6 separate regions of the Homo sapiens genome follow, and regions 1, 3, 4, 5 and 6 are each linked to region 2. The links come from fine-mapping of genetic effects on gene expression. A gene starts in region 2. Each other region holds a variant in brackets. All regions are shown on one strand. Distances are between the middles of the regions.

What was found. PIP is the estimated chance that this variant, and not a neighbour inherited with it, causes the effect.
Region 1: its variant is fine-mapped to the expression of SCARF1 in whole blood (TOPMed, PIP 0.93).
Region 3: its variant is fine-mapped to the expression of SCARF1 in whole blood (TOPMed, PIP above 0.99).
Region 4: its variant is fine-mapped to the expression of SCARF1 in cerebellum (GTEx, PIP above 0.99). The same link has a PIP of 0.9 or more in cerebellar hemisphere.
Region 5: its variant is fine-mapped to the expression of SCARF1 in skeletal muscle (GTEx, PIP 0.93).
Region 6: its variant is fine-mapped to the expression of SCARF1 in whole blood (TOPMed, PIP above 0.99).

Annotation. Positions count from the first base shown.
Region 1 is chr17:1,664,773-1,668,857 of GRCh38, forward strand. All of the region lies in intron 24 of PRPF8 (pre-mRNA processing factor 8), which reads right to left. Among named protein-coding and RNA genes, the nearest start is that of RILP, 17 kb to the left of the region's middle. The variant A/G (reference allele first, on the strand shown) is at 2,180.
Region 2 is chr17:1,643,470-1,647,554 of GRCh38, forward strand. It overlaps SCARF1 (scavenger receptor class F member 1), which reads right to left and starts at 2,263. Exons shown (of 11, transcript NM_003693.4): 1 at 2,128-2,263; 2 at 1,709-1,770; 3 at 1,365-1,466; 4 at 1-498. The coding sequence starts at 2,228. It overlaps RILP (Rab interacting lysosomal protein), which reads right to left. Exons shown (of 8, transcript NM_031430.3): 7 at 3,437-3,520; 8 at 2,681-3,150. The coding sequence ends at 2,973.
Region 3 is chr17:1,684,455-1,688,539 of GRCh38, forward strand. PRPF8 (pre-mRNA processing factor 8) reads right to left here and starts at 413. Exons shown (of 43, transcript NM_006445.4): 1 at 326-413; 2 at 18-128. The coding sequence starts at 117. The variant A/G (reference allele first, on the strand shown) is at 1,623.
Region 4 is chr17:1,588,801-1,592,885 of GRCh38, forward strand. SLC43A2 (solute carrier family 43 member 2) reads right to left here. Exons shown (of 14, transcript NM_152346.3): 7 at 2,766-2,899; 8 at 2,469-2,671; 9 at 2,002-2,148. Among named protein-coding and RNA genes, the nearest start is that of PITPNA, 28 kb to the left of the region's middle. RefSeq lists enhancers at 1,203-1,748, 1,749-2,294 and a silencer at 3,062-3,227. The variant T/G (reference allele first, on the strand shown) is at 1,878.
Region 5 is chr17:2,533,533-2,537,617 of GRCh38, forward strand. No RefSeq gene overlaps it. Among named protein-coding and RNA genes, the nearest start is that of METTL16, 24 kb to the left of the region's middle. The variant G/A (reference allele first, on the strand shown) is at 1,861.
Region 6 is chr17:1,601,154-1,605,238 of GRCh38, forward strand. All of the region lies in intron 5 of SLC43A2 (solute carrier family 43 member 2), which reads right to left. It also overlaps the pseudogene RN7SL105P. Among named protein-coding and RNA genes, the nearest start is that of SLC43A2, 26 kb to the right of the region's middle. The variant C/T (reference allele first, on the strand shown) is at 2,428.

The DNA.
Region 1 (4,085 bases), 21 kb after region 2:
ATTTGAAACAACCTAAGGTGAAATATGAACTCATAAGGGAAATTAGAATATACTTTTAACTAAATAAAAATGAAAACACAACATATTAAAATGTGAGGAATGGGGCCGGGCACGATGGCTCATATCTGTAAGCCCAGCACTTTGGGAAGCCAAGGCGGGTGAATCACGAGGTCACGAGTTCAAGACCAGCCTGGCCAACATGGTAAAAACCTGTCTCTACTAAAAATACAAAAAAAAATTAGCTGGGTGTGGTGGCGGGCACCTGTAATCCCAGCTACTTGGGAGGCTGAGGCAGGAGAATCGCTTGAACAGGGTAGGCGGAGGTTGCAGTGAGCCGAGATCGTGCCACTGCACTCTAGCCCGGGCGAAAATGTGAGACTCTGCCTCAAAAAAAAAAAAAAAAAAAAAGGGAGGAATGCAGCTAAAGCAATGCTGAGAGGAAAATTTACAGAAGTGAATAATACTATTAGAAAAAGAGAAAGGTTGGCCAGGCACGGTGGCTCACCCCTGTAATCCCAGCACTTTGGGAGGCTGAGGTGGGTGGATCACGAGGTCAGGAGATCAAGACCATCCCAGCTAACACGGTGAAACCCGTCTCTACTACAAATACAAAAAATTAGCTGAGCATGGTGGCAGGCGACTATAGTCCCAGCTACTCAGGAGGCTGAGGCAGGAGAATGACACAAACCCAGGAGGCGGAAGTTGCAGTGAGCCAAGATTGCGCCACTGCACTCCAGCCTGGGCGACAGAGCAAGACTCCGTCTCAAACAAAAAAAAACGAGAAAGGTCAGCTGGGCACGGTGGCTCACGCCTGTAATCCCAGCACTTTGGGAGGACGAGGCAGGTGGATCACGAGGTCAAGAGTTCAAGACCAGCCTGGCCAAGATGGTGAAACCCTGTCTCTACTAAAAACACACAAAAAAATTAGCCGGGTGCGGTGGCAGGCATCTGTAATCCTAGCTACTCGGGAGACTGAGGCAGGAGAATCGCTTGAACTCAGAGGGCGGAGGTTGCAGTGAGCTGAGATCGCGCCACTGCACTCCAGCCTGGGTGAGAGAGTGAGACTCCATCTCAAAAAAAAAAAAAAAGAAAAAGAGAAAGGTCCAGGCCAGGTGCGGTGGCTCACACCTATAATCCCAACACTTTGGGAGGCCGAGGCAAGCTGATCAGGTGGTGGTCAGGAGATCGAGACCATCCTCGCAAACACGGTGAAACCGCGTCGTAGTAAAAATACAAAAAAAAATATTAGCCGGGTGTGGTGGTGGGCACCTGTAGTCCCAGCTACTTGGGAGCTGAAGCAGGAGAATGGCGTGAACCCGGGAGACGGAGCTTGCAGTGAGCAGAGATCGCGCCACTGCACTCCAACCTGAGTGACAGGGCGAGACTCTGTCTCAAAAAAAAAAAAAGAGAAAGGTCCAAAATTGATAATCTAACCTTTTACCTTAACAAACTAGCAAAGGGATGGCAATGATAAGAGAAGAAATCAATGCAACAAGGCCAGGCGTGGTGGCTCACACCTACAATCCCAGCACTTTGGGAGCCCAGGGGGGTGGATTACCTGAGCTCAGGAATTCAAGACCAGCCTGGGCAACATGGCGAAACTGTCTGTATCCAAAATACAAAGAAAAATCAGCCAGGCATGGTGGCATGTGCCTGTGGTCCCAGCTACTTGGGAGGCTAAGGTGGGAGGGTCTCCTGAGCCTGGGAGGCAGAGGTTACAGTGAGCTGAGACTGCGACACTGCACACCAACCTGGGTCATAGAGACCCCATCTCAAAAAAAAAAAAAATCAATGCAACAAAAAAGAGAAAAACGATAAAAATTAATGAAACCAAAGCTGTTTCTTTGAAAAGCTGAATAAAACAAGATAGCAAACCACAAAATACCAAATGATATAGTCAAGACTTTAAGGCAAAAAATGTCTTCTGAACAATTATTGAGGTGAAAGAGTGCGTTGGCTGGAGTTACTATAGTAATCTGCCTTGAGCAAATGGTATTCAGACAAGCAAGGAGAAAAGACTGCAGGTGAGATAACAGCTCAAACCCTACTATGAAAGCTAGACTGAGCATCTCGCATGTCCACAGGATGAGACAACCAGGCAGATCTACAGAAAGGAGGGGGGCCGGGTGCGGTGGCTCATGCCTGTAATCCCAGCACTTTGGGAGGCCGAGGCGGTTGG[A/G]TCATGAGGTCAGGAGTTTGAGACCAGCCTGACCAACATGGTGAAACCCTGTCTCTACTAAAAATACAAAAATTAGCCGGGCATGGTGGCAGGCACCTGTAATCCCAGCTACTCAGGAGGCTGAGGCAGGAGAATTACTTAAACCCGGGAGGCGGGGGTCGCAGTGAGCTGAAATTGTGCCACTGCACTCCAGCCTGGGCAATAGAGCAAGACTCCCTCTCAAAAAAAAAAAGGAGGGCCAGGGGCCAGGATAGGCTAGATACTGGGGTAAAGGCAAGTGGATGATTCCCATTAGGTTTAGTAAATTCTTGGACTGCACTTGGAATTGCTGATGTGTGTAATGGAACACAGTATTTCTGTTGTAGTTAACAGTGCTCTATCCCTGAAGGGGAGGAGGCATAAATTCCTGAGGAGCCCAGTGTTCCTTTACTAAATAGCAGAAATTCCTGGGGGATAAGGGGAGGCAAGAAGGAAAATAATATTTACTCAGGTCTACGTGTACTAGGTACCATGGTAAGAAATTTATATATGTTATACCTCTTATGTCTTCATAAAAAACAAGTTATAGAACTTGCCCATGACATAGCTTTTTTTTTTTTTTTTTTTTTTTGAGATGGAGTCTCACTTTGTCACCCAGGCTGGAGTGCAGTGGCGCAATCTCAGCTCACCGCAACCTCCACCTCCGGGGCTCAAGTGGTTCTCCTGCTTCAGTCTCCAGAGTAGCTGGGACTACAGACATGTGCCACCACGCCTGGCTAATTTTTGTATTTTTAGTAGAGATGGGGTTTCACCATATTGGCCAGGCTGGTCCTGAACTCCTGACCTCGTGATCCACCTACCTCGGCCTCCCAAAGTGCTGGGATTACAGGCGTGAGCCACCGCACCCGGCCTATTTATTTATTTTTAAATATAAACAGGATCTTGCTATGTTGCCTAAGCTGGTCTCAAATTCCTGGGCTCAAGCAGTCCTCCCACCTCGGCTTCCAAAAGTGCTGGGATTGCAGGCATAAGCCACCATGCCCAGCTTTATCATGCAATTTACCAAGTAATATGGCTTACTAAATACCCCGTTTCATTTAATTCTCACAAAAGCCGTCTGACCTAGGTCCTATCAGTATCCCTATTTTACAGATGAGGGAATTGAGGCCCAGCATGGGCAATATTCCCAAGATCCCAACTAGTAATATGACAAAGATATGATGTGAACCCCATCTGACTCCAGAGCCTGTGCTTCTAACCACTAGAGTCAACTGCATCCTTACCCTCTCAGACACTCCTCCACTCCTCAGCCTCTAACTTCTGATATCCAGTTCCCTGATGCCTACAATTCTTTCCCAGGCCAATGGCCTCTTCTGCTCTCTCTCCTCTCCCCTCTTCCAGTATCTCAATGGGGTCTAGCATTCTTTTTTTTTTTTTTTTTTTTTTTTTGAGACAGAGTCTTGCTCTGTCACCCAGGCTGGAGTGCAGTGTCGCGATCTCGGTTCACTGCAAGCTCTGCCTCCCAGGTTCCTGCCATTCTCCTGCATCAGCCCCCCTGAGTAGCTGGGACCACAGGCGCCCGCCACGACATCCAGCTAATTTTTTGTATTTTTAGTAGAGACGGGGTTTCACCGCGTTAGCCAGGATGGTCTCAATCTCCTGAACTCGTGATCCACCCGCCTCGGCCTCCCAAAGTGCTGGGATTACAGGTATGAGCCACCGCGGCCGGCTGGGTCCCGCACTCTTGATTCCCTTGCATTCAATGCCTTACCACTCTACAACTGTCTTCTAACAGAGCTCTATTCCTTAATCACCAGTGTAATCTATCCACCTTCTGCATCCCTGTCACTGAGTAGCTGGGTGATTCTGGGAAAAACAAATGCTCAGAGTTGTCTTCCCAAAACCCAGCTGAGCTCCCAACACACCT
Region 2 (4,085 bases):
CTGCCGGGCAGGGCAGCTCGCAGCGCGCTCCGCGGAAGCCGGGCGGGCAGGTGCACTCGCCGGAGGCGGCGCTGCAGCGGCCCCGCACACACTCGCACTGCTGCTGGCATTCGGGACCCCACCAGCCCGGCCGGCAGGCGCAGCGGCCGGAGTCCTGCTCGCACGGGGAGCCGTGGCAGTTGCAGCGGAAGCTGCAGCGGCGCCCCCACCAGCCCGGCTTGCACACGCAGGCGCCCGTGGCCTGCTCGCAGCGCGCCGCCGCGGTGTTGCACTGGCACGGGCGGCGGCACGTGGACGACCACCAGCCGGGTTCGCAGTGGCACACGCCGGTCGCGGGGTCGCAGCGCCCGTGGGGGCCGCAGGCGCACGGGAACTCGCAGCGGGCTCCCCAGCGGTCGGCCTGGCACTGGCACGCGCCCGTGGCTGGCTCGCACTGGCCGTGCGGGTGGCAGGGGCAGCTCTCACGGCAGTCGGGGCCCCAGTACTGGCCCGGGCAGCCTGCGGGGGTGGGGACGGGAGGGGTCAGCGGGCTCAGGGCCGCGCGCAGACCCTTACCCTGCGTCCCCTTCCTCAAGGAAAAGGGGCGCTGGGCCCATCCTCCAAGAGCCGGGGACAGACCCTCAGAACATCCGGCAGCCTGTCCTGGGCAACACTCACTTCCTGCTCCGCTCTGACCTACAGAAAACCCTTAGCCATTAGTGGGAGGCTCAGCCTGCCACTTCACATTCCAGAACACACTCAGAGATCCTGAGTGGGCAGGGGACTTGCCCAGAGCGTGGCACCGAGGTTGGTGGGCCTTCCTCCATGCCTGCTCCTCCCTGCCGAGATGGATCTCTGCTGGGCTGGAGGAGAGCTGGCTTTCTCCTGATCTCAGGCCTGGATACTGCCCGCCAGGGTGTCGGGAGAAGCCACCTTTCCCCTAGTGATTCCTTGATTCCTGATGCCCACCCTCTGGCTCTCCTGCTTCCCAACCCCTTTCCCTTCCCTCTCTTTCTGCCAGAGAGGGCAGAGAGCCCAGCCAGGGGCCCCCTTCCATCCACTGCCCATGTATAAGGTATATGTGGGAAAGGCAAGTAATACACTCATTTTACAATGAAGGGGAATCACAGGTTTTCTGAGAAGTGGAAGAGGAAGATGCTCAGGTGGGCAGTGCTTTGTGGATGTGGGTAAAAACCCGGTGACTCAGGTCATCTCCCGGGAGTGTGTGTCACTTCCTGTCTCTGGACCGCAATTCCTCAGTGAAGCTGGGGGGGATTCTGGCCCTGCTGTCCTGAGGCTGCATGGCTACCTGCCTCGCCTGCTCCCACACCACTGCCCCCGTACCCAGCTCTGCCCAGCAACTTCATCTGGCCCTTGAGACTCACGGGAGCTGCAGTGGGCCCCAAAGAATCCAGGCTTGCATCGACAGAGGCCCGGCTTCACACACACCTCGTCTTTCTGGCAGGCGTCCGGCCCCTCACAGATGGCTGAAAGACACCCCACCCAGGTTGGAAAGACGGGAGCAGGACCAGGGGACACCCCTGCCCTCTCACTGGCTCCAGGGGCCATGCCTCCTCAAGAGGTGCCCCTTCAGGCCTGGGGGTGCGTCACAGGAGAAACCCTGACTCCTGGTATCAGGAGGGGCAGGCCCCATGGGGTAGGAAGGAAGGGTTGTCACTGGGCTACGGCCTCCCTTCTCCTTGGCTGAGGGTCTGTCCTGGCTACTCACGGATGGTGCATTCTTGATCCTTCTGCCTCCAGCCTGCGCAGCACTGCAGCTCAGCAGAGGGGCTGTGGGGCAAAAAGGGGTCAGCCGGACATGGTGGGGGGTGCAGCCTGGCCCTGAGGAAGGTGGATCACTGTCTCTGGCTGCAGTGGGGGAGGCTGCCTTAGCCCCCTGGGGAGGCCTAATGGATCTTTACAGCTAGGGTCCCCAGCCCCTCCCCTCTCCTTCCCTGACCCTTCCACCATCTGCCCTGGCTGGCCACTACCTGCCAGACCGCCATCAGCAGTCCCTTCCTTTCAGCCTAAGCCCCCTTCCTAGTCTCCTCCTTCCCCTAACGGCCTCAACACCGGTTCAGCCACCCGCATCAGACTCCCACGAGACCCACCTGCTGGCCACACGCATCAGACTCCCACGAGACCCACCTGCTGGCCACACAGACGTGCTGCCCTTTGGGGTCCAGCTCGGACCCCTGAGTCCCCCGAGTCCAGAGCAGCAGCAGCGGGAGCAGCAGCCCCAGCCCCATGGCAGGCAGCTCGGTGGGAGCGCTCGGGTTCGTCTGGCCCCCACAGCTCCCAACCCCCTCCCTGCTTCCTCTCAGGGCTTTTCCTGAGGAAACCAGGCCGGAGGGGCGGGCTGCCACGAGGCACCTCCCTGAGAGGGAGGGGGTGGCTGGAAAGACTGACACTCAAAAAAAGAAAGGGAAAGAAAGGCAATGGCAGGGCTGACTGGCCTGGGCCTGGAAGGGCCAGAAGAATGAAGTTGCAGGTCCCTGGGTGCCGGGGCCAGGGAAGGGGGTGGACTGAGGCTGGGAGCCACGGCTTTCCATCAGGCCACACTCCCAAAGCAAGGCCTGAGCTGCAAGAAGCCACCCCACCCAGTGACTGAGCAAGGAGACCAGCGAGGACCCCTCAGCCTGCCTCTGCTCCTGGCAGGGTTGGGAGGTGGCACAGACATGGACAGACAGGCGAGGAACAGTTTCTGTGTATTACGGGCAGTTCTTTATTACATGAGCTCAGGCCGTCTGCACAAAGCCCTGGGAGCTAGGCAGTCAGCTCTCATTTCATGGATGGGGAAACTGAGACTCAGAGAGGCACTCTTATATCTGGCCCCAGAGGCTCGGTACAGAGACGTAGAGAGGGAGGCGGGCTGAGACCCCGTCCTGCCCTGATGCAGGCCAGGATTGGGGCAGACCCCTGGCGAGGGCTGTGAAGGCGGGAGCCCTGTCCTCATTTGAGGCCACACATCCTTCCACAGCCAGACCCCTAAGTCAGGCCTCTGGGGCGGCTGAGGCCCCCAGACAAAGGTGTTCGTGGAGGGCAGAACAGGGCGGATCAGGAGCTGGAGACTGTGGTTGGGCCTCCTCTTCTCCCCCTAGCTTGCTGGGTGCAGGGCTGCTGGTCTCATCCTCAGAGGATTCAGCTTTACCCCGATACCATAGGCCAAAGCTGGAGAGAGACAGCCAGAGGCACTTTGAGCCAGGAAGCCAGAGAGGTCAAGGATATGGGTGAGGGCAGGGGATGGTGAGAAAAGGGGAGAGGGGGAAGAAAGGGCAGCCTGAGGGAGTGTGAAGGTGATGGGGGCCAGGGCCAGAGAAGCAGGAGGGGACGGTGTGCTTAGAGCCAAGCACAGCAGGGTGACGGGCAGAGAAGCGGGAAAGGGGATCCTGAGAAGGACCAGCCAGGGCCCTTCCTCCCTCCCCACACTCTTGCCTTTCCCCTTTCCCCAACATACAAACTCTGTATTTTGGACTCCGGGGGTGGGGGATGGTCTCCCTTGTCATCGGAGAGCAGGATCCATGGGCCAGCCTCATCCTCACTGAGACAGAGGAGAGAGGAGAAGTGAGGGCCATTGATCAAGGCCCTGAGGGACAACAGGAATCCAGCAGGGGGGATGGAGGGACTGCAGGGCCCCCGGGGCTGGAGAGAAGGCAACCCTGGGGAGATGCAGGATGTCGAGCCTTTAATTTTTAATTTTTTTTTTTTTGAGACAGGGTCTCACTCTGTCGCCCAGGCTGGAGTGCAGTGGTGCGATCTCAGCTCACTGCAACCTCCGCCTCCCAAGTTCAAGCGATTCTCCTGCCGCAGCCTCCTGAGTAGCTGGGATTATAGGCACATGCCACCATGCCCGGCTAATTTTTGTATTTTTAGTAGAGACGGAGTTTCACCATGTTGGCCACGCTGGTCTCGAACTCCTGACCTCAGGTGATCTACCCACCTTAGCCTCTCAAAGTGCTGGGATTACAGGCGTGAGCCACCGCGCCCTGCCAAGGGTTTATTTTATAGCTTGACACACAGCAGGCCCTGACACAGCCGCGGCTACAGTTTCACCCCCGTAAGAATAAACAGACCCAGCCAAGACAGGAACTTGAAGAATGAATGTG
Region 3 (4,085 bases), 41 kb after region 2:
CCACACTCTCGCCTCACCTTTCTCCTGCAGCTTCTCCTCCGACATGTAGTCCGGTAGCGGGGCTAGAGGGCCAGGCACCGGGTTACCCGGCCCTCGATAAGGAAACACTCCGGCCATATCCGGAGAATCTGGGGAGCGGCGGGATAGAAAAATTCACTAACCACAGGCCCGGGCCCACAAGAAGCGCAGCAGAAAGGCGTCCGGGGACCCCGGCCTGCAGTCCCGCCACACAGTGCATCCAGCCCCGCCCGGCCTAACCCCTTCGGTCACTCGGCCCGACCCGACCACGCCTCCCGCAGCCCGGCCTTAAACGCCTGCCACGCACCCCACAGGCCCTCACACAAGAGGCCGCTTTCCCCGCAGCGCAATGGCGGCCAGACTGCGTCCGCTCCGCGTTCCCAGCGCCGGGAAGTGCGCAACCCGAGTTCAGCAGTTGATCCAGTCGGCGCCGAGGTGCTCAGATGGATTAGTGAGACGACCAATTAGAGTTGCACACTGCGCCGAGGAGGCGGGCCCATAGGCGGAAAGGCTTTGAACGCAAGGGGGTGTGGTCGGGGTGAAGCCCCGCCTCCTCCATTTCCGAGGCTGTTTCTGGGGCCTCTGACAGACCTCAGCGTGTGATGGGCTCCCGGCGTCGCACTGTGAGAGAGCGAAGTCTAAAGGGTTTGAATAAATTTGCCAAGATTGCGCATTGTACGATGTCTGTTGTCATCAATGTGTACATGCAATGCAGTACTAGCTCCTGGACAGTCATTTGTTCATGCATTCATTCATTTAACCATCACTGTCTACCGAGGACGAGGGATAAAGCAGGAAAAAAGACAACCAGTAGAGTTCACAGGGGAGCAGAAAGGCAGGCAAGAATTAAGACCTTGGCCGGGCGCGGTGGCTCACGCCTGGAATCGCAGCACTTTGGGAGGCCGAGGCAGGCGGATCACTTAAAGCCAGAAGTTCGAGGCCAGCCTGGCCAACATGGTGAAACCCCGTCTCTACTAAAAATACAAACATTAGCCGGGCGTGGTGGCGGGCGCCTGTAGTCCCAGCTACTCGGGAGGCTGAGGCAGGAGAATCGCTTGACCCGGGAGGGGGAGGTTGCAGTGAGCCAAGATCGCGCCACTGCACTCCAGCCTGGGTGACAGAGCGAGACTCTGTCTCGGGGGAAAAAAAAAAGTCTGAAATTCTGTGGAGGGTGCAGAGGAATTGTAACCCATACAGCCCCTGAATCTAGTTGAGAATTTACAAATCAAAGTGAAATAATTAGAAAAAAATTCAAAGGATGTCAATGTGCTTTCAGAACGGTAAAAATTTAAAAAATATTCCTTTTGTTTTTTTGAGACAGGGTCTCACTCTGTTGCCCAGACTGGAGTGCAATGGCGCGATCTCAATTCATCACAACCTCCACCTCCCAGGATCAAGCAATTCTCCTGCCTCAGTCTCCAGAGTAGCTGGATTACAGGCACGCGCCACTACTGCCGGCTAAGTTTTGGATTTTTAGTAGAGACAGGGTTTCACTATGTTGGCCAGGCTGGTCTCAAACTCCTGACCTTACGAAATCCTCCTGCCTCGGCCCTCCCAAAGTGCTGGGATTACAGGCGTGAGCCCCCATGCCCGGCCTGAAATCT[A/G]TTTTTTAATGCTGGGTGTTCTAAAGGTCCCTACAGTCAAAAAAGACAGAGGAGAATTGTTAAAGATTTGATGGAGATGGATGGATGTGAGGATTTCATAAAGGTAAATGGAGAGGAAGGAAAAAGGTAATCCCAAGTGGTAGAACTACTAGAAAGAGTTAAGAAAGAAGCCGGGCACCGTGACTCATACCTGTAATCCTAGCACGTTGGGAGGCAGCGGCGAGAGGATTGGTTAAACTCATGAGTTTAAGACTAGCCTGGGCAACATACTGAGACCCTCATCTCTACAAATAATAAAAATATTAACCAGGCATAGTGGTACATGCCTGTAGTCCCAGCTACTCGGGAGGCTGAGGTGGGAGGATCATGATGGCACCACTGCACTCCAGCCTGGGTGACAGAGCGAGGCTGGTTTCATAGAAAAAAAGTGGGGGTTTTGGTTTGTTTTTTGTTTTTTGAGGCAGAGTCTCACTCTGTTGCCAGGCTGGAGTGCAGTGTCACAATCTCGGCTCACTGCAACCTCTGCCTCCAGGATTCAAGCGATTCTCCTGCCTCAGCCTCCTGAGTAGCTGGGGTTACAGGCATGTGCCACCACACCCGGCTAATTTTGTATTTTTCGTAGAGATGGCGTTTCTCCATGTTTGTCAGGCTGGTCTCGAACTACTGAGCTCAAGTAATCTGCCTACCTCAGCCTCGCAAATTGCTGGGATTTCAGGCGTGAGCCACCGTGCCAGGCCAAAAAAGGTTTAGATATAGAAACTAACATGGCATGCTCTGAAAATAGGCACCATATCAATCTGGCTGTGCTAGAAAGTCCAACATCATCATTATCATCTTCATCATCATCATCGTCATGGTAGTGAAGTCCTTTCACCTGTGTAAGGTTCACTACGTGCCAGACATTGCTCTAAGCCCTGGTGAAATCCTACTATGGTCTGTAGTTTCATTAAGAGTATTGTGGCCGGGCGCGGTGGTTCACGCCTGTAATCCCAGCACTTTGGGAGGCCGAGGCTGGCGGATCACAAGGTCAGGAGATCGAGACCATCCTGGCTAACACGGTGAAACCCTGTCTCTACTAAAAATACAAAAAAATTAGCCGGGCATGGTGGCACGCACCTGTGCTTCGAGCTACTTGAGAGGCTAAGGAAGGAGAATCGCTTGAACCCAGGAGGTAGAGGTTGTAGTGAGCTGAGATAGTCACTGCACTCCAGCCTGGGCAAAAGAGCAAGACTCCGTCTCAAAAAAGAAAAAAAGAGTATTGTACCAATGTCAATTTCCTGGTTTGATTGTCGCTCTATGGTTGTATAAGAAGTTCTGGGGGGTGGCCGGGCGCGGTGGTTCACGCCTGTAATCCCAGCACTTTGGGAGGCTGAGGAGGGTGGATCACGAGGTCAGGAGATCGAGACCATCCTGGCTAACACGGTGAAACCCCATCTCTACTAAAAATACAAAAAAATTAGCCGGGCATGGTGGCAGGCGCCTGTAGTCCCAGCTACTCGGGAGGCTGAGGCAGGAGAATGGTGTGAACCCGGTAGGCAGAGGTTGCAGTAAGCCAAGATCGGGCCACTGCACTCCAGCCTGGGTGACAGAGCAAGACTCCGTCTCCAAAAAAAAAAAAAAAAACAAGTTCTGGGGGGTGGGCAGGGGGCAGGTGTGGTGGCTCACGCCTGTAATCCCAGCACTTTGGGAGGCTGAGGCAGGTGGATCATTTGAGGTCAGGAATTCGAGACCAGCCTAGCCAACATGGTGAAAACCTGTCTCTACTAAAATACAAAAATTAGTGGGGCATGGTGGCACATGCCTGTAATCCTAGTTACTTGGGAGGCTGAGGCATAAGAATCGCTTGCACCCGGAGGTGGAGGTTGTAGTGAGCTGAGATCATGCTATTGCACTCCAGCTTGGGTGACCGAGTGAGACTCTCGCTCAAAAATAAAATAAAATAAAAAGTTCTCAAGCTACGTGAAGGGTACACAAGAACTCTCTGTACTATTTTCAAAACAGCATTATTGAGATAAAAGTTGCACTCCATGGCCACCATGCTGGCTCATGCCTGTAATCCCAGCACATTGGGAAGTCGAGGCGGGCGGATCACCTGAGGTCAGGAGTTCGAGACCAGACGAAGCAACATGGTGAAACTCTGTCTCTACTAAAAATACAAAAATTGGCGGGGCATGGTGGTGCATGCCTGTAATCCCAGCTACTTGGGAGGCTGAGATGTAAGAATCGCTTGCATCTGGAGGCAGAGGTTGCAGTGAGCTGAGATCGCGCCATTGCACTCCAGCCTGGGCAACAAGAGCGAAACTCTGCCTCAAAAAAAAAAAAAAAAAAATCGCAATCCATAAAGTTCGCTTGTTTTCATGTGTATAATTCAATGATTGTTAATGAATTTTAGTTTTAATGATTCAAAATTAGTATATTTACAGACTTGTGCAGTTACCACTATTGAGTTCCAGAACATTCCCA
Region 4 (4,085 bases), 55 kb before region 2:
AAACGCTGGGAGGCAGCAGAGTCACCGGTCAGCGGCAAGGCCTGGAGTCTCCATTCGGAACCAGCACCCGGGAGCCTCTGCCGCGGGTGGTCGCGGGGCCGTACGCGGAGGCGATGGCTCTGGTGCTTTGAGCCGTTCCTCAGCAGCACGGCACACCCCCTCCTGCGGAGCCGCAAAGCTCACGAGTGTGCGGAAAGTGACCCGGACCCTGCAGCTGCCTCTCGGCCGGAGCTAGGGCTATGGGTGTTGGGTGTAACGGGTCACAGAAGGAGGAGGGGGAAAACCAGTGCCTCGTCTGCCACAGACCAACCTTCCTGGCCTGGCTTCCTCTACTTCTTGAAATTGACTTTTTGAACATACGAAACAGTTGGAAACATTCCTCCTGGGCAGCAAAAGATTTCTCAGACAGCTTGAGTAAAAGACGCTGACTCAGCAGCAGGGAGATGAGCCTTTCGAGGGCCAGGGACCAGCTCTCTCTGCACACTTTGGGGTTTCCGCCACTCCAGGGCTGAATGTTTATCAGGCTGGGTGTGGAGGTTTACGCCTGTAATCCCAGCACTTTGGGAGGCCAAGAGGGGAGGATCCCTTGAGCCCAGGAGTTCGACACCAACCTGGGCAACACAGCAAGACCCTATCTCTGCAAAGAATTTAAAAATTAGCTGGGTGTGGTGGCGCGCACCTGGGGAGCCCTAAGAGGTCAAGGCTGCAGCGTTCACATCACTGCACTCCAGCCTAAGCAACGCAGAAAGAGACCCTGCCTCAAAAAAACAAGAAAGAAAGAGACATGATAGATTAGGGTTCCCCAAAGTGTGTTCCACAGATATTTTTTTTTCTTTTGAGATGGAGTCGCACTCTGTCGCCCAGGCTGGAGTGCAGTGGCGCAATCTCGGCTCACTGCAACCTCCACCTCCTGGGTTCAAGCAATTCTCTGCTTCAGCCTTCCAAGTAGCAGGGATTACAGGGGCCCACCACCACGCCTGGCTAATTTTTTGTATTTTTAGTAGAGATGGGGGTTTCACAATCTTGGCCAGGCTGGTCTTGAACTCCTGACCTCATGATCCACCTGCCTCAGCCTCCAAAAGGGCTAGGATTACAGGCGTGAGCCACCGTGCCTGGCCTAGACTACCATTTTCACAGTAGAACTGGCTGTTATCTGGTTCCCTTTGCTATCTTTTCCTTTTGATAAAGCTGGATTTCTCATCCCCTAAAAACCTGATAACTGATTCTTCACAAGTCCTAGGGTATCTTCACCTTGATAAAAACAAGGAAACCATCGGAAAAAGTGGCACACCAGGGAGGCTGCCAATAAAAAGGATTTGGAGTGTTTGTCCCGCCTGGGGATGACTAAGGCTGACTCAGCTCAGGCCCCGGGGAAGTCCTGACTTTCTCTGTAGAATCAAAACCTCTAATCAGCTGAAGACCTGCCCTGTTTGGAAAAGTGGACTGTGGGTTATCAGCTGTGTTTGTTGGAGCTGACAAGCCTCAACTGTTCGCAAGCTCCGAGGAAGTCTCTGCCCTGCCCTGTTTCTCGGTGAGGGATGCAGATCCCAGTGTGGGCCAGTTGCCCCAGCGTCTCCAGCCCCGTCCTGACCTCGATGCCCAGGGTGTCCACGCACCCACCGTGCCACTTTCTGGGAGGACTTTGGGCTTGACCTGCTGTCTTTCAGCCATGCTCAGGTGGAGCGTTCTGTTCTGTTTTCATTTACAGACACACACGGCAACCCTCCCCCTCAGGCACTGGAAAACACACACCCCACACCCCACACCCAGGAGGCTATTTTGGTCCTTCCCTCCCTCCTGGACCAGGAAACCCTGATGGGGACACGAAGAAACAGTTGGGGCTGGCAGTGATGCAATAGCTCTGACGGGCAGACAGC[T/G]CCTGGGATGCGGCCTTTCCATGGCCCGGCTGGCCCGGCTCAGCTTAACACATTCTGGCCGGTGGCCAGTGGGCTGGGCTCAGGCCGGGGAGTGACAGCGACCGAGGCTGCCCGGGGCACCTACCTGTCTTCTGGTCGCCGCTGACCAGGAACTTGAGGATGTTGTTCATAGCCCCCATGTAGAAGATGAGCCGCAGCTGCGTGACGCACATGGTGACCAGGCTGAGCAGCAGGATGGGGCTGAACACGCTGTGCATGAAGGAGGGGGCCACTGCAGGGAGAGGGTGCGGGGCTCAGGGCCGGGGCACACTGTCCCCACCACCGGGGGGACACGCAGATCCCTCCACGCTGGAGGCCAGGAGGGGGCCCTCGGGACGGGCCTGGTGAGGGTAACGGGGTTGGCGCTGCGGTGGGGTCACCTCTTGGGTGAAATCAGGCAAATCCCTTTCCCTCCCCCAGGCCTTCCTGAGCGCCTCTGCAGAACAGGGCGGGCGGGGCCGCCTCCCCTTTTGGGGTGAGGTGGGAATGGGGTGAGCCGATACCCACAGAGCACTCCCTGCCCGTCGCCCGGCTGCGGTCTCAGGCGGGTACCTGCGGCATCCGGCTGGCACTTCACCTCCAGGTCGACGGTGGACAGGCACAGCTTGTGGCCCTCCTGCAGCGCCACCTGCTCCTTGGCACTCCTCATGGAGCTGCCCACACTCAGGCGCCGGCCCACCGTGGTCACCTGCTTGTAGAACTGCTTCCCTGTGATCTTGTGGTCAAAGCCCAGCCAGCTGAACTTGATCTTCACCCTGGGGCCCCGGGAGAGTGTCTGTGGGTGCTGCCCGGGACCCCGGCTGGGGGGCGGGGGCTGGGGGCAGGCGGGACGGGGGCACCTCTACTTACGAGTAGTCCATGTCCTCCGGCCCCGGGAAGGGCTCAAGGGGCCAGTTAAAGAAGCAGTTGAGGAAAACCAGCCCGGAGCAGCCGGCCCAGACCACGAGGACGACGATGAAGGAGACACCAGCATCATAGATGAGCTGACAGGCACCGCGGGGACGGGGTGGGGGGGGGAGGGGGCAGAGTTAGCCCGGGGAGGCCAGAGCCGCAGCAGGCAGGGGCGTCTGGCCACCCCTGCTGTCCCTGTGCTGAGCCGCGCAAAGAGGCACAGCCCTGCCAGCCTGGGCGTTGGGGCATCAGGCACCCGCCTTCCAGTCCTCCCACCGTGCCTGCCCTGCTGGTCATCTGGGCCTGGCGTGTGATTAGCCCCCCGACTCGGAGGCCTTCCTGACCGCCCCGCCATGACCACGGCACGTCTTGCAGGCTCATAGTGATCGGCCCAGCAGAGGGGACGGTGCTCCTGGTCCGTCGGCTTGTCTGGTATTAGCGGAGCTCCCTGAAGGCGGGAACCGGCCAGCCCCGTCCACTGATGCTTCCCCAGTGCCTCTGAGAGCTCACATGGCAGAGGCCAAAGAAATGCTCAAGGAAGCCAGGCATGGTGGCTCACGCCTGTAATCCCAGCACTTTGGGAGGCCAAAGTGGGCGGATCATGAGGTCAGGAGTTCCAGGCCAGCCTGACCAACATGGTGAAACCCCATCTCTACTAAAAATACAAAAATTAGCCGGGCATGGTGGCGGGCACCTGTAATCCTAGCTCCTTGGGAGGCTGAGGCAGGAGAATCACTTGAACCTGGGAGGTGGAGGTTGCAGTGAGCCGAGATCGTGCTGCTGCACTCCAACCTGGGCGACAGAGCAAGACCCTGTTCCCCCCCAAAAAAAGGAGGAGGAAGAACTTTCGGGATGCTCCCCAGTCCAGGGGCATGAGAATCTCTGCAAGTCCATAGGATGGCTGGCCCCAGAGTCCCAGCTCCCACCACTTCAATGCCCAGGTGGCCAGCCCACACCGTGTCCCCCTCTCCTCGCCAACAGCATTCCCACACACACCACCGAGGAAAGGGGCTTTTACTTAGTGTGAGGGTCAGAGGTGGGAGAAGCCCCTACGGGGCCCTGGCAGACCCACAGGGTCTGGGGAACTTGGGCTGATGGACTGTGAGGTGTTTGCTTCGTCCTGACCCTGTGTGACTTCCACAGGCTCAAAATCCTGCCTAGGAGGGAAACAGCTGAAACACTTGGCCAAGAGCAGTGCTTTGGCTGGCGGGGAGTAACGGTACAATAACAGCAGGCTGGGGGTTGGGGAGCAGGGGAGCAGCGGGAGACCAGGATGAC
Region 5 (4,085 bases), 890 kb after region 2:
AATTGCTCGAGCCTGAGAGTTGGAGGTTGAAGTGAGCTGAGATTGTACCACTTCACTCCAGCCTGGGCGACAGATAGAGACTCCATCTCAAAACAAACAAACAAACTGCCCTGCTACTTTTAACCGCTTACATTCCCACCAAGAGTACACGAGAGTTCCAATGTTTCCACATTCTCTCCAACACTTAATTTTCTGTGTGTGTTTTTTTTTTTTTTTCCTGTAGTGGCCATCCTAATGGGAATGAGGTTTTGATTTACATTTCCTTAACGATTAGTGATGTTGAGCATCTTTTCATGTGTTTCTTGGCCATTTGTATACCTTCATTTGTCTCCCTCTGTCGCCCAGGCTGGAGTGCAGTGGCGTGATCTTGGCTCACTGCAAGTTCCGCCTCCCGGGTTCATGCCATTCTCCTGCCTCAGCCTCCGGAGTTGGGACTACAGGCTCCCACCACCACGCCCGGCTAATTTTTTGTATTTTTAGTAGAGATGGGGTTTTACCGTGTTAGCCAGGATGGTCTCGATCTCCTGACCCCGCGATCCGCCCGCCTCGGCCTCCCAAAGCGCTGGGATTACAGGCGTGAGCCACCGCACCCGGCCTTGCCGATTTTTAAATTATTATTATTAATATTTCTGTTTTTGAGTGAATGATGTGCCTTTCTGCATCCTTATATTTAAGGTGTATATTATAAGAAGCGGTGGCTCACTGCACTCCAGCCTGGGCGACAGAGCGAGACTCTGTCTCAAAAAAAAGAAAAGGATTTGTGGATATATCTGAAAACAACTGCATCTCGTATTTTGAAAAGAGTAATTGCCAACCCCCTGGCATAGCTGGTTAAGAAAAAGACAAAAGGTTTTTTTTTTTGTTTGTTTTTTTTTTTTGAGACGGAGTCTCATTCTGTCACTCAGGCTAGAGTGCAGTGGCACAATCTCTGCTCACTGCAACCTCTGCCTCCTGGGTTCAAGCAATTCTCCTGCCTCAGCTTCCCAAATAGTTGGGATTACAGGTGTGTACCACCACACCTGGCTAACTTTTGTATTTTTTTAGTAGAGACGGGGTTTCACTATGTTGGCCAGGCTGGTCTCAAACTCCTGATCTCAAGCGATCCACCCACCTCAGCCTCCCAAATTGCTGGGATTACAGGCGTAAGCCACCGTGCCCGGCCAAGAGAAAGAAAAAAGGTTTAAATAACCTTTATCATGAATGAAAAGAGGTACTAAATAAATATCAGCTGCACTTAAAAATTTTTTTCCAGCCAGGCATGCTCACGCCTGTAATCCCAGCACTCTGGGAGGCCGAGGTGGGCAGATCACTTGAGCTCAGGAGTTCGAGACCAGGCTGGACAACATGGTGAAACCCCTATCTCTATTTTTTTTAATCAAAGAAAAAATTCCTATATATTTACAACTGACAGTAAGAGAGTTTTTAATGTTTTGACCAAAATATTTAAAGGTCACAGAGCAATCATACATTTTCTCATTGATTATTAAGATTGCTTTGCGGCCGGGCGTGGTGGCTTATGCCTGTAATCTCAGCACTTTGGGAGGCCGAGGCAGGCGGTCAGGAGATGGAGACCATCCTGGCTAACACGGTGAAACCCCGTCTCTACTAAAAATACAAAAAATTAGCCGGGCGTGGGGGCGGCAACCTGTAGTCCCACTAATCAGGAGGCAGAGGCAGGAGAATCGCTTGAACCTGGGAGGTGGAGGTTAAAGTGAGCCGAGATGGCGCCACTGCATTCCAGCCTGGGTGACAGAGTGGGACTCCGTCTCAAAAAACAAAAACAAAAACAAAAAAAAAGGCCGGGCGTGGTGTAATCGTAGCACTTTGAGAGGCTGAGGTAGATGGATCACAAGGTCAGGA[G/A]TTCAAGATCAGCCTGGCCAATATAGTGAAACCCCATCTCTACTAAAAATACAAAAATTAACTGGGCGTGGTAGCGCACTCCTGTAATCCCAGCTACTTGGAAGGCTGAGGCAGAAGAATCACTTGAACCCAGGAGGCAGAGGTTGCAGTGAGCCGAGATTGTGCCACTGCACTCCAGCATGGGCAACAGAGCGAGACTCTGTATCCAAAAAAAAAAAAAAAAAAAAAAAAAGATTGCTCTGCATGGTTTCAGCTTGCACGGTCCTATCTGTGGTCCTGCATGGCCATGCAAAGTGAAGGCTGCTGGTTAAGCAGTTTCTACACCGTTGTTGTCTTCATATCTGATGCTGGAGTTTGAGGTCCCCGGGGCAGGCAGTTGGTAAAGTGGAGAATGAGCTGGAACTCACTAGCATAAACTGGAGCCCATGAGGGCAGGCTGGAGACCGCGTCAGTTCTTGTTGCTTCTAATGTTGGTGGTGTGGGCATCCAGGAGAAACCAGGGCTCTTTGCCCAGAGATATAAACACTGACACCTGGTCCAGGAGTAAGAGAAGCTGAAGGAAGATTCAGGAGAAGGTGAAGCAATTACAGGTGTAGCTGCTGCCTCTTGCCAATGAGTTGAGGCATCAGATAACCAGCACTGTCAGCTGCGGAACGGCTGCTGCTTCAATTCAGCCCTCCAGTCTCTCACAGGACTCTCTTGTGTAGTTTTCAATTGGGTTCAGGGGCGAAAAAAAAAAAAAAGAATCATTTGTGGCCCATGCTAACTGGAAATGAACAGGAAAGGGAACTCTGGGAAAGGGGATTCTGGGAAAGGGAATTCAGCCACCATAGTTACCGTATAGTTTAATGGCTGTGCATGGAGGGCTCGAAGTCAGACTTCTCAGATTTGATTTGTTTCCTTTATTTCAAGTCGTATGTCCAAGGGTAAGTTTCTTAGTCTTTCTGGGCCTCAGTTTGCTTGTCTGTAAAATGAAGATGTAATAGTAGCATTTAAGATTAGTTTGAGGTTTTTTAAAATTATTTTTATTTCCTTTTAATTTTTTGTTTTGTTTTTGTTTTTGTTGTTTTTGAGACGGAGTTTCACTCTTGTTGCCCAGGCTGGAGTGCAGGGGCTCAATCTTGGCTCACCGCAACTTCTGCCTCGCGGGTTCAAGTGATTCTCCTGCCTCAGCCTCCTGAGTAGCTGGGATTACAGGCACACGCCACCACGCCTGACTAATTTTGTATTTTTAGTAGAGATGGGGTTTGTCCATGTTGGTCAGGCTGGTCTTTAACTGCTGACCTCAGGTGATCCGCCCGCCTCGGCCTCCCAAATTGCTGGGATTATAGGCGTGAGCCACCACGACCGGCCCCTTTTAAATTTGTATTTATATAAAAACTTCTATGCTAGTTTGAGGTTTAAATGAGATAATACATATAAATTGTTAACATATTATTGGTGTATTATCAATAAGACTTGCCTTATTGGAAATGTTTAATAAACATCAGCCATGTCGGCCAGGCGCAGTGACTCACACCTGTAATGCCAGTACTTTGGGAGGCTGAGGCAGGAGGATTGCTTGAGTCCAGGAGTTTGGGACCAGCCTGGGCAACATAGGGAGACCCTGCTTCTACAAAAAAAAAATTTAAATTAGCAGGACGTGGTGGTGCACACCTGTAGTCCCAGCTACTCAGGAGGCTGAGGCAAGAGGATCACTTGAGTCCAGGAGGTTGAGGCTGCAGTGATCCAAGATTGTGCCGCTATGCTCCAGTCTGGGCAACTGAATGAGACCCTGTCTCAAAACAAAACAACAAACAAAAACAATCAAATAGACAAAAATATATCAGCCATGATTATTAGTAATTGTGTGATCTTTCTGGTCCTCAGTTTTTTTCAGCTGTAAGGTGGGGATAACTTCCTTGGCCTACTTCACAGGCATATATTGAGAATCAAATGAAATAAATAATTCAAATAAAATAGGAATAATTATATGAATAACATATCACCACTTCATGGTAGAGGTGGTGGTAAAAATGATGATAAACATAGTTCTTAGTTCCTTCCAGCCTCCATATTGGTATCTACTCCAGTGACTAAAGCCAGCTATTCCATGATTATTAATCAGAAAAGCAGTTATCCAAATGTAAGATGTTAATAGGGAAACTGAGTGCAGAGGATATGGAACTTTTTGTACTTACCATCTTTGCCATTTTTCTGTAAATATAAAACTGTTTACTAAAAAA
Region 6 (4,085 bases), 42 kb before region 2:
TAGTGGAAGTTTGCAGATTTTTAATTCTTCGTAGGTCTGAGCTGGCACTAGACTGCTACCAAAGGGGTCTGTTCCACACGCTAATTTCAGGCTTGCGGACCATCAGCAAACTGCAATGAAACCTGTGGGCATGAATCTTCCAGAGTGGTAGAATCTCATTCCCATATGCCCGCCAAGTTTCCAGGTGTAGCTGGGAAAACCCAAATGTTCCCTGGATCCCGAGATGGCTAATAAGCACTCAGGCCTGCTACACCACCGAACAGAGCCCCACAGCCAGAGAGGCACACGGCCTGCTTCACACAGCCGACAACCCCGCTGGAAACAACCAGTGCTGGGAGCCAAGGCCAAACTGATGCAAAGGCGCTACTGAGCCAGAGCCCTTCTGCACCGAGACTACCCCAGGCATGCACCGCCCTCCCAAAGGTCCAAAACGATGCAAAGGCGCTACTGAGCCAGAGTCGTGCACTGAGACTACCCCAGGCATGCACCGCCCTCCCGAAGGTCCAAACCAATGCAAAGGCGCTACTGAGCCAGAGTCCTGCATTGAGACTACCCCAGACATGTACTGCCCTCCCGAAGGTCCAAACCAATGCAAAGGTGCTATTGAGCCAGAGTCCTGCACTGAGACTACCCCAGGCGTGTACCACCCTCCGGAAGGTCCAAACCGATGCAAAGCCACTATTGAGCCAGAGTCCTTCTGCACCGCCCTCCCGAAGGTCCAAACTGATGCAAAGGTGCTACTGAGCCAGAGTCCTTCTGCACCGAGACTACCCCAGGCATGCACTGCCTTCCCGAAGGTCCCAACCAATGCAAAGGCACTATTGAGCCAGAGTCCTGCACTGAGACTACCCCAGACGTGTACCGCCCTCCCGAAGGTCCAAACCAATGCAAAGGCGCTATTGAGCCAGAGTCCTGCACTGTGACTACCCCAGGTGTGCGCCGCCCTCCTGAAGGTGCGTGTGGGTCGACAAGGGTGCACAAGCGGCAGGGGGCTGCATAGCAAGGTCTCCTTCAGCTTTGTTTTAATTATTTTTATAGAGACAGGGTCTCACTCTATTGCCCAGGCTGGTCTTGAACTCCTGGATTCCAGCGATCCTTCCACCTTGGCTTCCCAAACTGCAATGATTACAGGCATGAGCCACTGCACCCGGCCAATCTTTGTATATTGATTTTGTGAAGGCTCTTTATGTATTAAAGACATTCATTCACAGGCCGGGCACGGTGGCTCACACCTGTAATCCCAGCACTTTCAGAGGCCGAGGCAAGCGGATCACCTGAGGTCAGGGGTTTGAGACCAGCCTGGCCAACATAGTGAAACCTCGTCTTTACTAAAAATACAAAAATTAGCCGGACATGGTGGCAGGCACCTGTAATCCTAGCTACTTGGGAAGCTGAGGCAGAAAAATCGCTTGAACCCCAGAGGCAGAGGTTGCAATGAGCCGAGATTGTGCCACTGCACTCCAGCCTGGGCGACAGAGCGAGACTCTTGTCTCAAAAATTAATAAAAATAAAATAAAATGAAGACATTCACAGTTCTATATACTATGAATAAATTTTCCTAGTTTGTCATTTAACTTCTTAATTCATGGTGTTTTGTTTTTTCAGTTTTTTTTTTTTTTTTTGAGATGGAGTTTCGCTCTTATTGCCCAGGCTGGAGTGCAATGGTGCAATCTCGGCTCACCGCAACCTCCACCTCCCGGGTTCATGCGATTCTCCTGCCTCAGCCTCCCAAGTAGCTGGGATTACAGGCACCCGCCACCACACCCGGCTAATTTTTGTATTTTTAGTAGAGACAGGGTTTCACCATGTTGGCCAGGCTGGTCTCGAACTCCTGACCTCAGGTGATCCACCCGCCTCAGCCTCCCAAAGTGCTGGGATTACAGGCGTGAGCCACTGCGCCCGGCCGAGGGTTTTAAAGATCATAAATAGGGTAGGTATTAACAATAGTTACTATTATGATATGTGTTATGACTTCATAACAGGGAAAATCTTCTGGTCAAGCTGCTCCTGGGCATAGCCAACGAGGGAAGTGTCCTCTGGCAGGAACCACAGCTCTGGGAGGAAGAAAAGGAAGCCGACTACAGGATAAAACACAAATTAGTATTCCCCTTTAAATAAATAATTAGTGTCCACAGAGATGGCCTTTCTTCTCCTGTCCTTGTTATTCTGTTGTGACCACACATTGACTGCTGTCAGGATGTTTATGCTTTGGGTTTCACTGGTCAAGGTCATCCTTCATGTTCTCTTCAGAGAGGTTTCATTTGACACAAATGCTAGGTACTCCCTAAAAGCTGAAACACACTTTTGACCACCTATTTAAAAACTTTTATTGGTCAAAAAACACCATGAGGCCGGGCGCGGTGGCTCACACCTGTAATCCCAGCACTTTGGGAGGCCGAGGCAGGGGATCACCTGAGGTCAGGAGTT[C/T]GAGACCAGCCTGGCCAATACGGTGAAACCCCATCTCTACTAAAAATACAAAAAATTAGCCAGGCGTGGTGGCGTGCACCTGTAATCCCAGCTACTCGGCAGGCTGAGGCAGGAGAATCGCTTGAACCCAGGAGGCAGAGGTGGCAGTGAGTTGAGATCGCGCCATTGCACTCCAGTCTGGGCAACAAGAGTGAAACTCTGCCTCAAAAAACAAAACAAAACAAAACAAAACAAAAACTTAAAGATTAGAAAAGTCAAGGGACTCCCCCAAGCTAGTAATGGTCAGATTGGGGATTCAAGCCAGGCCAAGCCTCTGTGTGTAGGCCCCAGGCCACGCTGCCTCTCTGGAGTCTCCTGTGGCTCCGGCCAATACACACTTCAGTTTGGATCCCACGGCTTTTACATGTGCCTTATTAAGATCCAATCTGCGCCCTTCAACTAGAGGTTTATTTTTCATTCATTTACTTATTTATTTTTTGAGACAGAGCCTCACTCTGTCGCCAAGGCTACAGTGCAGCAGCACAATCTCAGCTCACTTCAAGCTCCACCTCCCTGGTTCAAGCGATTCTCCTGCCTCAGCCTCCCGAGTAGCTGGGATTACAGGCATGTGCCACTACGCCACGATGCCCAGCTAATTTTTTTTTTGTATTTTGAGTAGAGATGGAGTTTCGCCATGTTGGCCAGGCTGGTCTCGAACTCCTGACTTCAGGTGATCCATCCGCCTCGGCCTCCCAAAGTGCTGGGATGACAGGCGTGAGCCACCGCGCCCGGTCATTTTTTTAAATTTGTTTTTGGAGATGAGGTCATGCTGTATTGCCCAGGCTGGAGCGCAGTGGCTATTCACAGGCATGATCCCTCTACTGATCAGCAGGACACTTTTGACCTGCTCTGTTTCTGACCTGGGCCGGTTCAGCCCTCCTTAGGCAACCTGGGGGTCCCTCACCCCCCGGAGGTCACCACACTGATGCTGAACTTAGTGTAGACATCTCATCAACACAGCACGCTATTGTGCAGAACTCCTGGGCTCAACTCATCTGCCCACCTCAGCCTCCTGAGCAGCTGAGACTACAGGGGGATACCACAATGCCCAGTCCCCAACTAGAGATGGCTTACATTCCTTCTGAAGCTCCTTTTAGACCCATCTGCCCCCTGCCCTCACCTCCTGCTGTTGCCTTCGGCTGACCTCCCCATGGTCCAGCGCCACAGCATCGGATGGGCTTGCATTTGCCTGTGGACTCCCGTAGGTCATCCTGACATCTGGGTCACTCCCCACATTCCCCCTCTCGCTCACTCCGTCCCCAGCTTCCCTGCCTCCACCGGTCTCAGCTGCGCATAATGGCTGTTCGAAGCCGCGGTGCCGGAGTGAGGGCTGAGCGCTGAGCAGAGCGCCCTAGCGCGGGCCTCGAGGGCTGGCGGAGGGGAAGGACCCCAGGAGGGGAAGGACCAGCTTTGCTGCCAAGCAGGAAGCCGGAGCTGTTTCCTGACTCACCACCACACTCACAGGTGGGAGTGCAAGCCCCTCTTCCCGCCCTCAGGTGCTTCCCACAGCCCCCTCGCCGCCTCTGCCTCCGTGCGGGTCAACCTGTCCTGCCAGCCCGGGCTGTTCACTCACTGCCTCCACGCAGCCTCAGTCACACAGGGAAGCCCGTGACTCTCTC